2 separate regions of the Homo sapiens genome follow, and region 1 is linked to region 2. Evidence: fine-mapped expression QTL. A gene starts in region 2. The other region holds a variant in brackets. All regions are shown on one strand. Distances are between the middles of the regions. Region 1 overlaps RABGAP1 (RAB GTPase activating protein 1). Region 2 holds the start of RC3H2 (ring finger and CCCH-type domains 2).

The links.
Region 1: its variant is fine-mapped to the expression of RC3H2 in whole blood (INTERVAL, PIP 0.97).

Annotation. Positions count from the first base shown.
Region 1 is chr9:122,970,201-122,979,432 of GRCh38, forward strand. All of the region lies in intron 2 of RABGAP1 (RAB GTPase activating protein 1), which reads left to right. Among named protein-coding and RNA genes, the nearest start is that of RABGAP1, 34 kb to the left of the region's middle. The variant A/G (reference allele first, on the strand shown) is at 5,178.
Region 2 is chr9:122,901,049-122,910,280 of GRCh38, forward strand. It overlaps RC3H2 (ring finger and CCCH-type domains 2), which reads right to left and starts at 4,311. Exons shown (of 21, transcript NM_001100588.3): 1 at 4,062-4,311. It overlaps ZBTB6 (zinc finger and BTB domain containing 6), which reads right to left. Exons shown (of 2, transcript NM_006626.6): 2 at 7,008-9,232. RefSeq lists a silencer at 3,766-4,415.

The sequences.
Region 1 (9,232 bases), 69 kb after region 2:
ACTATACCAGGTCCTGGAATTTTTCTTTGTTTCTGTTTTAATGCTAACATTTATGCTTGGGACATAAACATAAAAGTGGAACCATGAGTTGGGTGTGATAGTGTGTACCTGTAGTTCCAGCTGCTTAGGAGGCTGATGCAGGAGGATTGCTCAAAGCCAGGACTTCAAGGCTGCAGTGCTCTATAAGCATGCCTGTGAATAGCCACTGCAGTTCAGCCTGGGCAACATAGTGATACCCTGTCTTAAAAAAGAAATGTTTTTTTAAACTTTTATTTTAGATTCAGGGGGTACATGTACAGGTTTGTTACAAATGTATATTACATGATTCTGAGGTTTGGGGTACAATTACACCCAGGTAGTAAGCACAGTACCCAATAGATAGTTTTTTCAACCCTTATCCCTCTGTCTCCTTCCCTTCCTACCCTCTGTTGCAGTCCTCAGTGTCCATTGTTCCCATCTTTATGTCCATGTGTACCCAATGGAAAACATATTTTAAAAGTCTGTCACTATTCCACCCCAAAACTCCAAAAGTCCCAGTTGAGTGTCTTGTTGAAAGGTCATTTGACAGCTAGTAACTATCACAGGATAGGAATTCCCATTTTTGAAAATATGATAACCTACACAGCCTAAGAAGTTTCCATTATAAAATAATTAGGAAAGCTGGCTGAAATGTAACAAACAGCTTTTTAATTGCCTAGCTGTATTTACAAGAAAGTAATGACAGTCTTCAAGGAACAAAAACAAAGAGGGTACTGAAAGCTGGAACTATACATATGGGCTGACATTTGGTCTGCACTGAGGAATTTTCTATTCTTTATAACCAAAGTGCTTGGATTTTGATAACTACGTTGGGCAAGAGGTAAGGCCTTGGGTTTAGAGAGAGAGGTGTTGGAGCTGAGATCTCCTCAGAAAGTGTACTCAGGGGCTACTTCCTAACTTGAAAGGATAGGGTAAAAATTCTACCTGTACTTCACAGGAAAGAACATAAGGAAACTTACATTTCTTAGCTTGGACACTAATTTGGAGGAGGGTCTTGCTGGGAATTTATTCCCACAGGCTTGCCTTCATGTATGTTTAGAGTTTGAATTTACACTGCTTGTATGTTCCTTGATTGATAATACTCCAGGCACCTTACAGAAGCAATTGCAGAACTACTCTGGAAGAACATACTTGCCACTCAGGCTACATGGTATTTCCCCAGATAACCCTCTTAAAGCAGAGCACACAATCCAAAATTTACAAATATATACAAAGAATTATTTATTATGAGCAAGTTAGCAAACCCCAGCAGAACTGAATCCCACTGGAACTTGGGCATTAGAATTATTAGGTATAACCTTAAGGGAAATATGATTAAAATCATTAAAGACTTAAAGCAAAATTAGAAAACATTTAAAAAGAACAAAATATCAAAAAATGTAAAAATTAAGCCAACTAAAACTGGAATTCTGCAATTAAATTTAGAGCCAGTGAAATTAAAAGTGCAGCAGATATGTTAAACAGCAAATTACACATGGCTGAAGAGAGAATCAAATACCTGGAAAATGGATCTGAAGAAATTATCCAGAAGATAGCATTGAAAGATATGAAAGACCACTTAAGAGACATGAAAATTAAGATGAGAAGGACCAACCATCTTAAGTGTTCTATAATAAGAGAATGGTGAAGATGGAAGAAAATACTTGAAGAGATAATAGTTGAATATTTTCCAGAAGTGATAAACGATATAAATCATTGGCTTCAAAGAACACAGTAAGTCCCAAGTGGAATGATAGTAGAACTGGAGAACATCATAGCCAGAGAGAAAATAATACAAGGCTGAATGAGAATAGAGATGAAGTGGACTTGGTGCCTGTATTTAAGATGCTTATAGCTTAGGGCAGATGACAATTAAAAATCTTGTTACATTTTTTTCTGTTAGTCTTTCCTTTGTAACAGATTACCTCTGCCCATTGTAGTGGCACATGTCTGTAATCCCAGCACTTTGGGAGGCTGAGGCAGGAGGATCACTGGAGCCCAGGAGTTCAAGACCAGCCTGGGCAACAACAGTGCGACCCTGTCTCTTTAAAAAATAAAAATAAAAATGGTAAGAAAAAAACTCCAAATTACCTCGATACTCAGTGGATTAAAACTATTTCTCTTGATTTTGTGGATTGACTGGTTGGTTTTTGCCAATCTTGCGCTCATACAGCTTCATCTGGTGGGTCGGGTGGGGACTGGACTTGAGTAGGATGGCTGGGTCTCCTTCCATGTAGTCGCTCGTCTTAGGCTTCTTCACAGCATGGTAGTCTTAGGACAGGAGTAGCAGCTGTAAGGCCCTTGGGGCTGTGGGTTAGAAATTATACCACGTGGATTCTCGTGTTCAAAGCAAGTCACAAGTCCAGTTCTTATTCAAAGTTTTGGGTAAATAGGCTATATCTCTTGATTGGAGGTGCTGTAGAGATTCTCTGGCCGTATTTAATTTTCAACATCAGTATAGTTAGATGAATGCTGTGGTGTAGATGAGCAAAGGGTGCTATAGAACAGAGGATGGAAACCTAATTCAGCTTGAGGGAAGGGTCAAGGAAGGCTTCTTGGAGTTGGTAATGCTTTACGTAAGCCCTTTAAATAAAAGTATTATGTGATGGTGTGGTTATAGAAAACATAAAGGTATGGCCGGGCGTGATGGCTCACACCTGTAATCCCAGCACTTGGGGAGGCCAAAGTGGGAGGATTGGTTGAGCTCAGGAGTTGAGACCAGCCTAGGCAATATAGTGAGAGCCTATCTCTTTATATATTAAAAAAAAAAAATACATAGAGGTATATTTCTTTTTTTTTTAACCTAGTCATCCATAAGCAGGTATTTTTCGTAATAAAATGTTTTGACAACTCATATCAAAATGTGAGAACTTTCCATAAAAGCAGAACATGTATTTTCTCCATCTGACTGACTATATGTTCCTCTCAGTTGGGAATCTTAGCTCTTACCCAAAGATACTCTATAAATACTGGTTGGGGATGCATTGATGAACTAGTGTTTCTTATGCAGAAAGATCAGTTACTTTTTTTTGCTTTTGAGACGGAGTCTCGCTCTGCTGCCCAGGCTGGAGTGCAGTGGCATGATCCCTGCTCACTGCAAGCTCCACCTCTCGGGTTCACACCATTCCCCTGCCTCAGCCTCCCAGTAGCTGGGACTACAGGCGCCCACCACCATGCCCGGCTAATTTTTTGTATTTTTAGTAGAGATGGGGTTTCACCGTGTTAGCCAGGATGGTCTCGATCTGACCTCGTGATCCACCCGCCTCGGCCTCCCAAAGTGCTGGGATTATAGGCATGAGCCACCGAGCCTGGCCAGATCAGTTAATTTTTTAAACTCTTTAATCCTCATAGAGTTTTCTTCTTGAAAAATCTAATTGACATTATTTAGATGAAAGAAAATTGCCAAACTTTATTAAAATAGCAGATAACAAAAGTCACTCTGTCTCAGTAATGCCGAAACTAATCTTCTGATTTGGTTTCTGATACTGCTTTTTTAGAACCTGATAATCTGCTGGACGTGGTGGCTCACGCCTGTAATCCCAGCACTTTGGGAGGCCGAGGCGGGCAGATCACCTGAGGTCAGGAGTTTGAGACAAGCCCGGCCAACATGGCAAAACCCCATCTCTACTAAAAATACAAAAATTAGCTGGGCGTGGTGGCATGCACCTGTAATCCCAGCTACTCCGGAGGCTGAGGCAGGAGAATTGCTTGAACCCGGGAGGCGGAGGTTGCAGTGAGCTATCACGCCACTGCACTCCAGCCTGGGCGACGAGCGAAACTTCGTCTCAAACCAAAAAAAAAAAAGAAAAAAAGAACCTGGTAATCTTGTCCTCTGTAATGCAGATCTTTTATTCAGCAAAGTTACTGAACATGAGCTCAGTTTAATTAAGAGGGTTATAGTGGTGGTGGCAGTGGAGACACATCAGTAAATACGTCATCATGATACAATTCATCATGTACTAGAATCTAGGTATGAGCGAACTGTGTGAGAATGTAATTGTTGCCTAAAGAAGAAAAGAAAGGTTATGTGTAGTAGGTGATAGTTGAGAAAATATTAAGAGTGCCCTGTACAAACAAGTGAGCCTGTAACGTGGTAAGATCCAGAAGCTTGAAAGAACATGGAGTCAGGACTACTGTAGGTAGAAGAATTGATTGTATTTGCTTTTCTTTTCCTCCCAAGATGGAAATGGCTTTGTCTTTTTTTTTTTTTTTTTTTTTTTTTTAGTTATAATAATGTTTGCTTGATATAGAAAACCAGGCAGTAAGAGAAGTAACTAAAACCCAGCCATGGCCATGTGCAGTGGCTCATGCCTGTAATCCCAACACACTTTGGGAGGTGGAGGCAGGAGGATTGCCTGAGCCCAGGAGTTCTAGACCAGCCTAGGTAACATGATGGGACCCTGTCTCTATTTTTAAAATAAAAAAATTAAAATAAAACCCATCCATAATCCCATTACTTAGTGAAACAGTTGTAAATGTTTTGGGCCTGTCTTCAGTTGACTTTTCAGGATAAATTCACAAGCTGCTGTTCTTTCCCGTCCTCTTTTTATTTTAAAGTAATACTAGAAATTCTAATGATAACTTTATGTTGTTTGGTTCTTCCTTCATAGAGTAAGATAAAAAGACTGATAATCAGAACAGCCATGGTTTATAAAGTAAATCATAAAGAAATTTACTGATTTAACAAAGATCACAGAATGAGTGTGTAAGCAGGTTTGAGATTAGTAACTAAATCTTCAAATATCCAAATTGGACTTTTGGTTATTTCGTGTCATGTATTCTGACACAGCTAAGGTTATTTAGTGTTATAAGTAACATACATACTTCTTAATTGCTCAGCTTTTACACTGAAGCTCAGCAATATTACTCAGTTTGAACCATTTTCATTTGTGTTTTTACTGCAGTAGGATTAAAATAGTGGAAACTGTAGATCATCAGGAATTCGTCTTTAATTTTCTGATCATCTAGGGACTTCTCAAGCACAAAGTGTCCCTTCCTAAGCATGTTTTCTTGAGGGCCTAAATATCCTTCAGAAAAGGATCCCAAACTGCCTGAAGTAGCTTTGTATAACTGGCAAATCAAGTGGGGCCAAGTTGGTATTGTTGCAGTGAAAGGAAACAAGGACTATAAAATTAGAAGTAGAAAATTGAGACCAGGAA[A/G]TGACTCTGGATTTTGCCTTTGGAACATTTTGTCCTTTGGTTCCATAAATGCAATTTTGCTCTCAAGGAAACAGACTTGTAGCCAATTCTACCGTATAAGATATTGCCCTTATTTGATATATTTAGAAAGGACAAATGTTATTCCAGTATGCTGCTTTTGTACATGAATAGTAGGTGTGTTCTTAGAGTTTCTTTGGGCCACGAAAAGTAGAACTACTTGCTTTCTAAGTTTATTGTTTTCAAACCTCAACTCTAATAGGTGGATCAGAGTTTCTTTAGAAAGAGCTGAGAGTGGGGTGGAGGAATACCAACACTTATTGGATGCTATTTGGCAGGTACTGTGGTGTGAGAGTTAAATGAGATAGTTCTGTAAAAACCACACGATACAGTGCCTGAAATATACGTAAGTGCCCAATAATGTTATCAAACCCTAATAACAATCCTGTGAGATAGATATTAACATCCTCATTTTAGAGATGAGACAGTTGGGGCTCCCAGACATTAATTTGCCCTCAGTTACAGAGTTAATGTCAGAGCAATGTCCCAAAGCCAGATATGTCTTACTTGGGAGTCCAAGTATGGCTACTAAGTTCAGTTGCATAGGCTTTGCACACTACAGTTCTAGTGAGAGCCATTCAGATAATCTGTGCTGTGAATGGGGTGCCTCTTGGAGTTGTGCCACAAAACAACTCTGGGCCCAGTTTTTTTTAGTACCACCCTGCTATGTAAGCAGAATTATGAATAAACAATTCATCATGCAGTCTCCATCCCTGCAAACGTTTATGTCATATGTTTACAGTAGCTGCTAAATGCTAAATTGGCCTTTTTATGTTTATTGTTTTCCTTAACAATTCAGGACTTTCCTAAAGAACTGTTCCTTTTAATGTAGAGTACATGGAAATAAACACAAATCTAAATGTAATTCTTAGTTGTACTATTCATAAATATTTGTTTTGCTTTTTTTGTCTTCATATTTGTGCTAAATTACATTAGAAGTCTTTGTTGGACTTCAAAATATATTGTTTGTGTTTTGCACTGGGCTCTTTGCAGTGTTCTTATTGTAAATGTTAGCCCTTAATGACACTTGCTCAGAATAATGAAAACAGATGGTATTTGTTTTTGTTTTTGTATTTTAGTAGATAAAGCTAAAGTCATTCAGATTTCCTTTCTATAATTAAACCAAAATTTGTAGAATATTCAGTATCCAAGTAGGATAAAATCATACTGCTTTGGCTTCCATTCTTTGCATTTGTAACATTCAGTTCAGTAAATATGTATTTCAGGTGTATTTTGTCCCAGTCACTATCTGAAGCTTTGGGGATATAAAGATAATTTAACAAACAGTCTCTGCCCAGTCTGGTTCAAGGGACTCTCTAAACAAATATTTTCTAAAACAAGTAGCAATGCTAGAATAAACATATATGCTAATATTATGGTAGCCCTGAGGAGGGAGTGATTAAATCCTATCTAGAACGGTTAAGATCTCCCAGAGGAGATAACAGAATTTAAGGTTGGTCTTAAAGAATACACAGGAGGAGAGGATGACTTTCCAGGAAAGGAAACACTCTATACAAAGTATGGGTGCTTGAAAGTTTATGGTGGGTCCTGGGAAAGTTGAGTAGTTTGCTGTGACTAAGTGACTGGAAAGGCAGATTGAGCAGAGTTGTGAAAAGACTAATAGGATATACTTATGAATTTGGGCTTTATCTTGTGGGCATTGAGGAACCATGGAAGGATTTAAAAACAAGGCAGTGCTTGATCACAACTAAGACTGGCAATTATAAGTTGAATGGTGGCCATATGTGAAAGAGAAGAGAGAGAAAGAAGGCAGGCAAACTACTAACTGCAGTAGGCTTACGTAAAATGAAAGAGGTTGTCCTAAGGTATTAGCTATGCAGAGAAGATAGAAGGGAAAAATGGACAGACAAGGGTCAATAGGATTTGTGAGTTATATGGGAATGAGAGAAATCAAGGATGATTGTAATTCTTAATTTGGCCATGGAGTGAATGGTAGTGCAACTCATTGATTAAAAAAGGATGCAGGAGGGCTGGGTTCGGTGGCTCATGCCTGCTAATCCCAACAGGGAGGCCAAGGCGGGCAGATACTTGAGGCCAGGAGTTTGAGACCAGCCTGGCCAACATGGTGAAACCCACCCCATCTCTACCAAAAATACAAAAATCAGCTGGGCGTGATGGCGCATGCCTGTAATCTCAGCTACTCGGGAGGCTGAGACATGAGAATCGCTTGAACCCAGGAGGCAGAGGTTGCAGTGAGCAGAGATTGCGCCACTGTACTGCTCAACCTGGGCGGCAGAATGAGACTGTGTCTCAAAAAGAAAAAAAAAAGCAGGAAGAGGATCAGTGGCTTAAGTTTTGGACAGAATAAGTTTGATGTATCCAACTGAAGGTCTCTATCCAGTAGACAGTTGAGGAAGGGATTGTAGATAGAGATTTGAGATTGTTTGTTGTTGGGAGTAGATACCATACAGTGGCACAGGAGAGTCTAATAACGTGAAGTTAATGCCAAAGACAGAATCCTGGATGAGCACCTTTAGTAGGGTACATAGAAAAAAAGGAACAGTTGTGTTCTCAAATTGCATCTTTTGTGGAAATCATACTTTTTCTGTTTTATTTTAGGTCAGATTTTTTGAGGTAAAATTTACACCAATAAAATGCAACCCTCTTAGTTGTACAGTCCTGAGTTTTAACAAATGTAAAGTCTCATGTAACGACCAGCACAGTCAAGATGGGGAATACTTTTATTACTCCCAAAAGTCCCCTCGTGCATCTATTTAGTCATACCTTTATTCCCCTTCCCTGATAACCAGTGATCTGATTTCTGTCCCTATAGTTTTGTCTTTTCCAGAATGCCAGGTAAATGGAGTCATACAGTATGTAGTCTTTTTGTGTATGGCTTCTTTTACATAGAATAATGCTTTTGAGATTTGTCCATGTTATTGTGTGTATTAGTAGTTTATTCCTTTTTATTGCTTAGTAGTATTCCATTTTATAGATCTATAAGAATCTTTTTATTAATCTACTCACCAGTGAATAAACATTTGGGTTGTATTCAGTTTTTGGCTATTATGAATAATGCATTAACATTTGCAGCCGGGCATTGGTGGCTCATTCCTGTAATCTCAGCAACTTGGGAGGCTGAGATGGGAAGATCGCTTGAGCCCAGAAGTTTGAGGCTGCAGTGAGCTATGATCGTGCCACTCTCCTGCAGCTTGGTCAGCAGAGAAAAACCCTGTCTCTCAAAAAATAATTTGCAAACAGATTTTTGTGTAGACATATGTTTTTATTTTTCTTGGGTAACTAATACCTAAGAGTGAGTCATATGGTAAGTGTAATGTTTAACCTTATAAAACTTTATAAAAAATGGATAATATGACTAGACCATTTTGCATTCCTACCAGCAATGTACGAGGGTTTTCTAGTCGCTCCTTATTCTTGCCAGCCCTTCCTATTGTCAGAGTTGTTTTGAATTTTAGTCATTCATTTTATTTTATTTTATTTTATTTTACTTTATTTTATTTTATTTTAAACAGGGTCTTGCTGTGTTGCCCAGGCTAGAGTTCAGTGGCATAATCTCACTGCAGCCTCAACCTCCTGGGTTCAAGTGATCCTCCCACCTCAGCCTCTTGAGTAGCTGAGACCAAGGTGTGTGCCAGTACTTCTGGCTAATTTTTTAAATTTTTGTAGAGTCGGGGTCTCACCATGTTGCCCAGGCTAGTTTCAAACTCCTAGAGACACACAGTCCACCTGCCTCAGCCTCCTAAATTGCTGGGATTATAGGCATGAACCACTGCGCCCAGACTATAGTCATTCTTATAAGGGTATAGAGGCATCCTATTATAATTTCTATTTCCCTGATGGCTAGTAATGTTGAGTTTCTTTTTATGTGCTTATTTGCCATCTGTGTATCTTTGGTGAAATGCCCTTTTTAGTTGGGTAGTTTGTTTTCTTCTTAAGAGTTCTCTATATATTCTGGATATACGTCCTTCATCAGATATATGACTTGCAAATGTTTTCTCCAGGTCTGGCTTATCTTT
Region 2 (9,232 bases):
TTTTCTCTTATTAGTCCACCATATTATGCAGCCAGTTCAGGTCTACGGCATCTGATTTTAAAATGCCAGAATAAAGTTTATGCTTCTTTAACTGTCATATATGTATACATCATTTTACAATTCTCTTAATAAAAATGTAAACCTTAGGGCTTAGTTCTTCTAATTAAAACCATTGTTTTCATTCTTGTTAACCTATGTGAGGAATATAAGCTACTGAAATGGACTGTCACAGTACTTCCCCGTTTAGAAAACTTAAAAATAATTAGTTTTGTTCTTAAAAAATGATATTTAAAGCATAAGCACAATTTGGATCTCTAGCTAAAAGACAAGTAAAAACCAAAACAGCAATGGAAACAACCTGTAAGCTAGAAACTCAGTACTGGAGAAAAAGGAATTGAATTGCAATTTAAAAGACTGCTATAATATGTGATTTTGCCGTTAACGTGTGAAGTATATATGACTCAAATTTTACTTCTTAAATACACTATGTGGTTGAACTGTTTTAAAATAAATATTAGATATAACTTCCAATGCATTCTTTTTTTTTTTTTTTTTTTTGAGATGGAGGAGTCTCACTCTGTTGCCTAGGCTGGAGTGCGGTGGTGCGATTTCGGCTCACTGCAACCTCCGCCTCCCGGTTTCATACGATTCTCCTGCCTCAGCCTCCTGAGTAGCTGGGATTACAAGTGCGCACCACCATGCCCGGTTAATTTTTGTATTTTTAGTAGAGACAGGGTTTCACCTGTGGGTCAGGCTGATCTCAAACTCCTGACCTCGTGATCTGCCCACCTTGGCCTCCCAAAGTCCTGGGATTACAGGCATGAGCCTCGGCGCCCAGTCTCAATGCATTCTAATAGGGCAATAATGAGATAACTACTTCTTTTTTTTTTTTTTTTTTGAGACGGAGTTTCGCTCTTGTTGCCCAGGCTGTAGTGCAATGGCGCGATCTCGGCTCACTGCAACCTCCGTCTCCCGGGTTCAAGCGATTCTCCTGCCTCAGCCTCCGGAGTAGCTGGGATTACAGGCATGCGCCACCAGGCCCAGCTAATTTTTTGTAATTTTAGTAGAGATGGGGTTTATCCATGTTGGTCAGGCTGGTCTCGAACTCCTGACCTCAGGTGATCCACCCGCCTCAGCCTTCCAAAGTGCTGGGATTACAGGCGTGAGCCACCGCGCCCAGCCAACTTTCTATTTTAACAAGTATAACTAATATTAGTGATGACGAGAAAAATACTTTCTTTGAGATAGAACTTACTTCTGCCTATCAAATCATAGCCAATGGATAACTTCATCCTTCATATTACCAAAGTCCTTAGCTCTTTAATTATTCTGATTGTAACAGGATAATCTATCTGGAAGTTTTGGGTTTTTATACATCTACTTTTATTCCACTAACATATTTCTTGGAAGAGTAATGCTGATCTACAACAGTAATATCCGATAGAAATATGTGAGCCATTATAATCCGAGTAATTTTTAATTTTCTGGTAGTCACATTAAAAAAGGTTAAAAGAGGCTAGGCGTGGTGGCTCACGCCTGTAATCCCAGCACTTTGGGAGGCGGAGGCGGGAGGTGGGTGGATCACTTGAGGTCATGAGTTCCAGACCAGCCTGGTCAACATGGCAAAACCCCATCTCTACTAAAAATACAAAAATTAGCCTGGTGTAGTGGTGCCTTCCTGTAATCCCAACTACTCAGGAGTCTGAGGCATGAGAATTGCTTGAACCTGGAAGCAGAGGTTGCAGTGAACCCGAATGGTGCCACTGCACTCCAGCATGGGTGATAGAGAGAGACTGTCTCAAAAAAAAAAAAAAAAAAGTTAAAATAGCTAAAATTATTTTTAGTAATATATTTTATTTATCCCAGTTTATACAAAATATCATTTCAACATGTTGTCAATATTAAAATTACTGAGATATTAAAAAAAATCTTGGTACTAAGTCTTTGAAATCTGGTATTTTACACCTAAAGCACATCTCAATTCACAGAAGCCACATTTCAAATCTTCAACTGTCACATGTGGCCACTGGCTAGTACTGGACAGTGCAACTCTAGAATATTTAAATTATAAAGTAATACTTAGAACTTTTATCAGGAAATTGAGGTAAAACTCACACTTACACTTAAAGCTTTAGTAAAATTAGAGACGCTGATCATAACATTCATGAGACTGGATGCAAAACATGAACTTATTTTTAATTTTCAGCTAGCTTTATTTTACCCATGCTTCCTTTTTCCATCACTAAAAAGTGAAACTTCAACACGGTACAAACTAAACAGTAAGTAGTTACTAAAACCTTGTTATGAAGTTTTTTTTAGCGTTCTTAGCTATTGCAAACAATGTAGAAGTTCAACTTTTGAATATAAAATCCTGAGTGTAAAGAAGAATGCTTTGCCAAAATGCAAATTTTTGGTTTTTTCAAAGTGGAAGACAGCAAATTACAAAAGCAGAGTATGATTTAACAAAAATATATGAACAAAGGACGTAAGTCTTCTTACATGTCAGGTTACCACAACAGAAATAACAGATCAGGGGTAACTCAAAGGATCCACTAATGAACACGAGTGTAATTAAATCCTCATAGAACAAGTGCCTGTTTGAATTATAACATCTGCTTTTTCTAAACGTAACTAGAATATGTTTCACATTCTGTCCTCCTAGCAATTTTCCAAACTCTAAAATTTTGAAAACATTAATCTCCAAATCAACGAAAATGTCAATATTGAAAAGCAGTCTTTAACAGGATGTAACGACCTCTATTTCTTCAAAAATTGAACGTGGAAGTAAACAACGTAAGAAAGGCATGTGAAGCTACAACAGTGGTATAGCTTTTTAGACAGCTAAAAGGTTTTTTAAAAAGGAGAATCTATTAATATTCTTAATATCGTAAAAAGCTTTTAACTAAGTTTGTATGTTTAACCATTAAAAGGCTGCACTGGCTAACATTTGTTTCTTTGCTTTTGAGTGACTTTATACCACTGTGGTATAGCAACGTTAGCTTTCTCAGGTTAACCAAAAGTTCCTACTGGAACTTAAAAGTTTGGCCAATACAAAATTGGAAAAAAGATTACTTAAAGCACTTTATTTGGGATACAAACTCACCCACCCACAATGGGTAGGGGGAGAGTAGAAATGAAAAAAAGGAAGGCCGTGGGTAAGGGGAGAGGAGGAATTAAAAAGGGAACCCAAGGGTTATGAAAATATAAATAAATCACTGGATTAGATTTACTTTATGCCAGTGATTACTTGAGTCAATTTTGGTGTGAAGGATTTATCTGCCGGTATCTTAAACGGCTGCCTTGGGATTTGAAGGATGGAAATGACAGCTACCCTCATCTTCTCCCATCCTGAAAGCTAAGGATAGAAAAAAGTACAGCTGCTTCTCTGGGAAACAAAGATGCTTTCTACCATTCTTCTAAGATGGTGGAAGAGTCTCCTCAAGAGGCTACACCAAAAAGGAAAAATGAGAGAGGGAAAGAAGAAAGCCATAGCAGAATTTCCTGGCTGTGTTTCATGCCATTGCTCCTAGCCACAACCCCTGTGCAACCACTCAGGTCCGGCCGTCCCCATCCTGGGAGGTTAAGCCCTCCCAGGGCATTGTTTGGCCGGGGTTCCTATTTACCACTCAGATCGCCTCCACCACCCTCTACGCTAGGGTCTCGGGAAGCCCCAGGGCAGAAAGCTGAAAAGCTAGGAGAAGACTTGGTTTCGAGGACCTCTTCCAAACCCCCTTACTAACTGGTGTAGAAAAGGGAGAGTGAAGCCGGGCCTTTGCTTGGGTGGGTTCGTTAGGGGTCAGAGGCGTCCGCTCGGCCAGTGTCGAAGGAAGGTGGCCATTTGAGCCGGTCGCTCCGCATCGAAAAAGCCCTACCAGAGAGAGGGGCCTCCGCAGGGCCCGGGTTCCATCCGAGTGTCAGGTGCGGCCCTCAGTTCCCAACCCTCGAGGCACCAGGGGCGACAGCGCACAGGCCCCAGGGCTGAGACTGGTCTCCCGCCCGACCGCCGGGGACCAGGCACCCGGGCTGGGGCCCGAGCCGCATCGTGCCCGCCCCCGCCCTACCTGAGGGGGCCCGGGCGGGGTCGCTAAGGGCCGCTCCCGGGAGCCCCGCGACGGCGCGGCTTGGCGACGGAGGCGCCTCGTCTCGCCGGGGCAGAGCTCGGCGGAGGTTTCACGACCTCAAACTCCATCGGGAGCTACAGGGACAGCCCCGTTGGCGGCGGCGAAGGCCGCGACGGGGCCTCCTCCTCCTCCCTCCACCTCCGCCTCCTCCTCCTCCTCCTCCTCACCACGGAGGCGGACCTGGAGGGATCCCGATCTAGCTCTCGCGAGAAGTTACTCCCCACTTAACGCGAGATTACGCAAGCCCGGGAGTCGGGAGTTGGAAGGAAAGCGTAGTAGCCCCAGCCACCCAAACTGCGAATCAACTTCCCTCTGCCTCAGCGGATCCACCCCGATCACGTGACAAGGGAGCCCCGGAGCACTGTGGGAGGTACTGTGAGAAGGACTAGGCAAGCCGAAGGGATTGATGGGAAATTCCCTGCACATTCATCTGCGCCTTGAGCCGGCTTCCTAGACGCTGGTTTGAGCGAGTGTCTTAACTCCCTTCGTGAAAAGCGTGGAATCCATTGAGCAGAATCTGATACATCTGTGTCACATTCTTCTTCACACTCCTGTGATGACATGCCGACAGGATCCCTCAATCCCTTTACAAAGATGTCAAGTAATCTCCCCATTACAAAAACAAGAAGAAAACATGTATTTGGCAGGCACTTCCACATCTCACTTCTTTATTAAAGAGAAAACTCTGTTTCTAGACAAAGAGTCCAAAGTGGGGGGGGGAGGGGGGGAAGAAAGCTCTGAGCTCCTCAAAAGCTGGCAAAAATAAAAAATTTAAGCACAAATTCTGGCATCATATCTCAAATATTTGTTGAAGCTTTTTACACAGCGAACTAAGGTAAGAATTATTCTTACAGTTTATAATTTATAGATGAAACAGACTTGGAATAGGGATATCAGAATTAACATTTATAAACTACTTAGTATGTGTCAGGCAGGTCCTGTGTTAGGTGATATTTAATTTTAAATATTTTAGTTTTATTTACATTTCATTTAATTAGCAAAGTGATCCTAGAAGACAGATACAATGTACCCCTTGTTACTGATGAGAAACTAAAGAATGTAGGCTAGAAAATGACCATGACGCCGGGCGCGGTGGCTGATGCCTGTAATACCAGCACTTTGGGAGGCCGAAGCGGGTGGACCGCCAGGTCAGAAGTTAGAGACCAGTCTGGCCAACATAGTGAAACCCTGGCTCTACTAAAAATACAAAAATTAGCCGGGTGTGGTGGCGGGCACCTGTAATCCCAGCTACTCGGGGGGCTGAGGCAGGAGAATCACTTGAACCCGGGAGACGGAGGTTGCAGTGAGCCGAGACCGCGCCATTGCACTACAGCCAGGCGGGGGGGCAGTGCCAGACTCCGTCTCAACAAAAAAAAGAAGAAAAAAAATGACCATGACTTGTAATTAAACTCAAGGCACTTTCCAATGTGAAATCAGATGCCCAACAACAAAAATATCGAAGTAAACCTACGATAAATTAGAATATGGAAAGGTTGCTTCTACAGTTTTAACAAAATATATAGTTATTACCTATTATATTTGTCTGAATGACAGGCAAAAATCAGTGTTTTTGAAAAAAGATTCATTGGCCACATCGAAGACGTTTCTTCCACACATTATCTTTTTCGTTCTCTTCTCTTTATGAAACATATGCCAGGCCTAGAGAACTGTTAACAACCAATAATTGTTTCAGTAATTTCAACTGGACAGTGATAGGTAATTTACATGTACATATTTGTTTTCCACCCTACTGTGTATATATATATATACACACATATATACATATATGCACATATATACATATATACATACATATAAATATATATACACATATATAGATACATATAAGTATATATACACATATAAACATACACATTATATATACATATATGTACATATTTTTTTTTTTGAGACGGAGTCTCACTCTGTCACACAGGCTGGAGTGCAATGGTGTGATCTCAGCTCACTGCAACCTCCACCTCCTGGGTTCAAGGAATTCTCCTGCCTTAGCCTCCCCAGTAGCTGGAATTACAGGCACCCGTCATCATGCCCGGCTAAATTTCTTTTTTGTATTTTTGTAGAGACGGGTTTTCACCATGTTGGCCAGGCTGGTCTTGAACTCCTGACCTCAGAAGACCCGCCTGCCTCGGCCTCCAAAAGTGCTGGGATTGCAGGCGTGAGCCACCAGTCCAGGCCAAATTTTTCTATTCTACTGGATATATTTACATTTCACTAGACAGAAGAATATATATTTCTGATAATCCGAGATTTTTCAAAGGTGTCCTGGTCACCATATTTATTTTTGAGATGGGGTCTTGCTCCCTCAGTTAGGCTGACTGCAGCGGTGCGATATTGGCTTACTGCAACCTCTGCCTCCCAGGTTCAACGGATTCTCCTGTCTCAGACTCCCGAGTAGCTGGGATTACAGGCAAGCGCTACCATGCCCGGCTAATTTTTGTATTTTTAGTGAAGGGTTTTCATCAGGTTGGCCAGGCTTGTCTCAAACTCCTGACCTCAAGTGATCTGCCAGCCTCGGCCTCCCTAAGTGTTAGGATTACAGGCCTGAGCCTCGGCGCCCGGCGCTGACCACCATATTTAAAATTGCAATTCCATCCCCCTTCTCTGGTACTCCCTATTCCTGATTTTTCTCCAAATTCCTTCTCAAAATTTGACATACATGGATTTTACTTACTTGTTTACTGTTTGTCTCCCTTCACTAAGATGTTTCACAAGAGCAGGAATTTTTGTCTGTATACCTAACTTATATTTCATTGTAAGGACTCAGGAAGTATTTGCTAGATGAATGATTAATGTATAGTCAGGAGAAATTGTATCCTTTAAATTGTATCCTTTAAAATTCAAAGATGAAGACAAAACACATTGTTCTCCATTCCCACCTCCAGTTTATTATTTCTTATGTAAACATGTAAGATAGTTACATCCCAGGAAAAAGGGCAAGTGTTTTTCTCTGACAACGAAGTAACAACTACCTTTTCAAGATCTTTTATATGTAAATGGAGTAAATGAAGAGGCTGAACTCAAACACTTTTCATTTTTCTGTCATATCAGAAACATAAACTAAATGTGAATATGTTAAATGAATAAATTCTATACTTTGTCATACCTGAACTTTAAAAAAAGATTCCATTTTCCTGAAAATTTTTAGACATATCATGCAAACAGACACTCTCCTAGGAATGTTTGGAGATCATTCCGTGCTACTGAACAGGAATAAATAATATAAATAATAACCATCACTTTCACAAAACACCCCTCCCCCAGCAAAAATCTCAAAGTGCTCACAAAAAATTTTACAACAATCTTACAAGGCACACATAAAACTTAAACATAGTTTCAACCAATTTTTTTTCAAATATCCAAGATAGTAGATACTAATTCTTAAAAAATCAGAGTACTATTCTTTTACCCTCTCCTCCCATCTCCATCCTTCCCCCTTCCCCCCACGCCATTTTATAATAGGAAGCAAAAATAAGAAAAGTACTTCAATCACTAGTAAACTATTTCTGAAAAGAAAATATTTTCACACCAACAAATGGCCAATCTTAGGTCAAATGGAAGCAATGAACTATGAATGAAAAATTAGCAATGAGCTATCACACTTTCCAGTGGAAAAAGATCCACTAATTAGAAAAATTATGTCTCCAATGGAGTACTTAAGTAACAAAGTTCATAAAGACACAAAACCGTCCTCTCTTGCTTTCCCCTCTTCTGTTCTCAGGAAGAATTAAATACAAAATCATGGAATTTTAGACCTGGAAATGATCTTTCAAATGACCAAGATCAAAGTTATTTTACATATAAAGTTAAAAAGTTCAAGGAGAAATTCAGCACAATGTCGCTAACTAGTAACATTGGGTTATGAAGTCGGTTTTTTCATCAAACGAGACCTGCATTCTTGAAAGTCTCAAGGAAAGTTAAAATTCAGTGGAGAATGTCTTTCCCACAAAATTGTCAAAAAAAGGTTAACACTTATAACAACGAACATGTGATTCATTCATCACACAATTTTTATAAATGGTACAAAGTATATTACATTTTAAAATACAGAAGGGCTTCAATAGAAATTAAATACAGTAGAAATTCTACATAAAGCTAAGTTAACTAGAGGAGGACTAGAACAGCTTCAAAGAAAGATGCATCTAGTCAGTCTTCTTTACGAAAAGCAGTTCCTGTGTTTTAGAGAATATTATTTGCCCTGCAGTATATTTTAATCTTTGTTAAAATAATTTATAAAAGTTTTGTGTTATATGTAGACGGAGATGTTAGAGAACTATGGCTCAGAACACCATCTCAAATATGACTCTCGCTAAAATAATCATACAGTCATAGTTTTCCTTTTGGCATATTTTTGGAAATATAAAACTCTAGGGATGGTTAAGATTTTTATCAACACATAGTGAATGGAAATTACATTAATGTAAATGAAAAAATACAACACTAATAGCTACACCTTTTTAAATTGCTCATCTAGTAACAGCTAGAATATATATTGCCAATTCAAAATTTAAAATGACATGGATGAACCTCAAAGTCATTATGCTGGGTGAAAAAGCATTTCAAGAGGGAACGTACTATAAGATTCTGTTTATATGACAGTCCAGAAAAGGCAAAATAATAGTGACGGAGAACTGTTGCCAGGATTAGAGCTAGAAGGAGCTGACTACAAAGGGACAGCATAAGAGAGCTATTGGGAGTGAAGGAACTGTTCTGTACCGACTGCAGTAGTGGTGCACAAATCTTTCTGTTAAAATTCACAGAACTATACACCAAGAAGAAATTTCAATTTTACTTCATGTTAAATAAAAAATAAAATAGAGAGGAACTTTTAAAACAGTAGAACAGATATCCCTGGTAAAGGTAGAATTTCTCATTTTTCACAGCTTCATGCCAATGGTATAATTTTACTGGCCACAAAATTATTAAATCCGATTGTATTAAATAAAATCAAGAAACTCGGGCCCAATGAACCATTTCTTAAGTATGTATACTAATAAGGCATGGAAATAAAAGTATTTTAAGGATTATTAACCCTGTATAAAAAAATTCTGCTATTCCCAAGTGAATCTGAATTGTTACTTTATACATTTTAA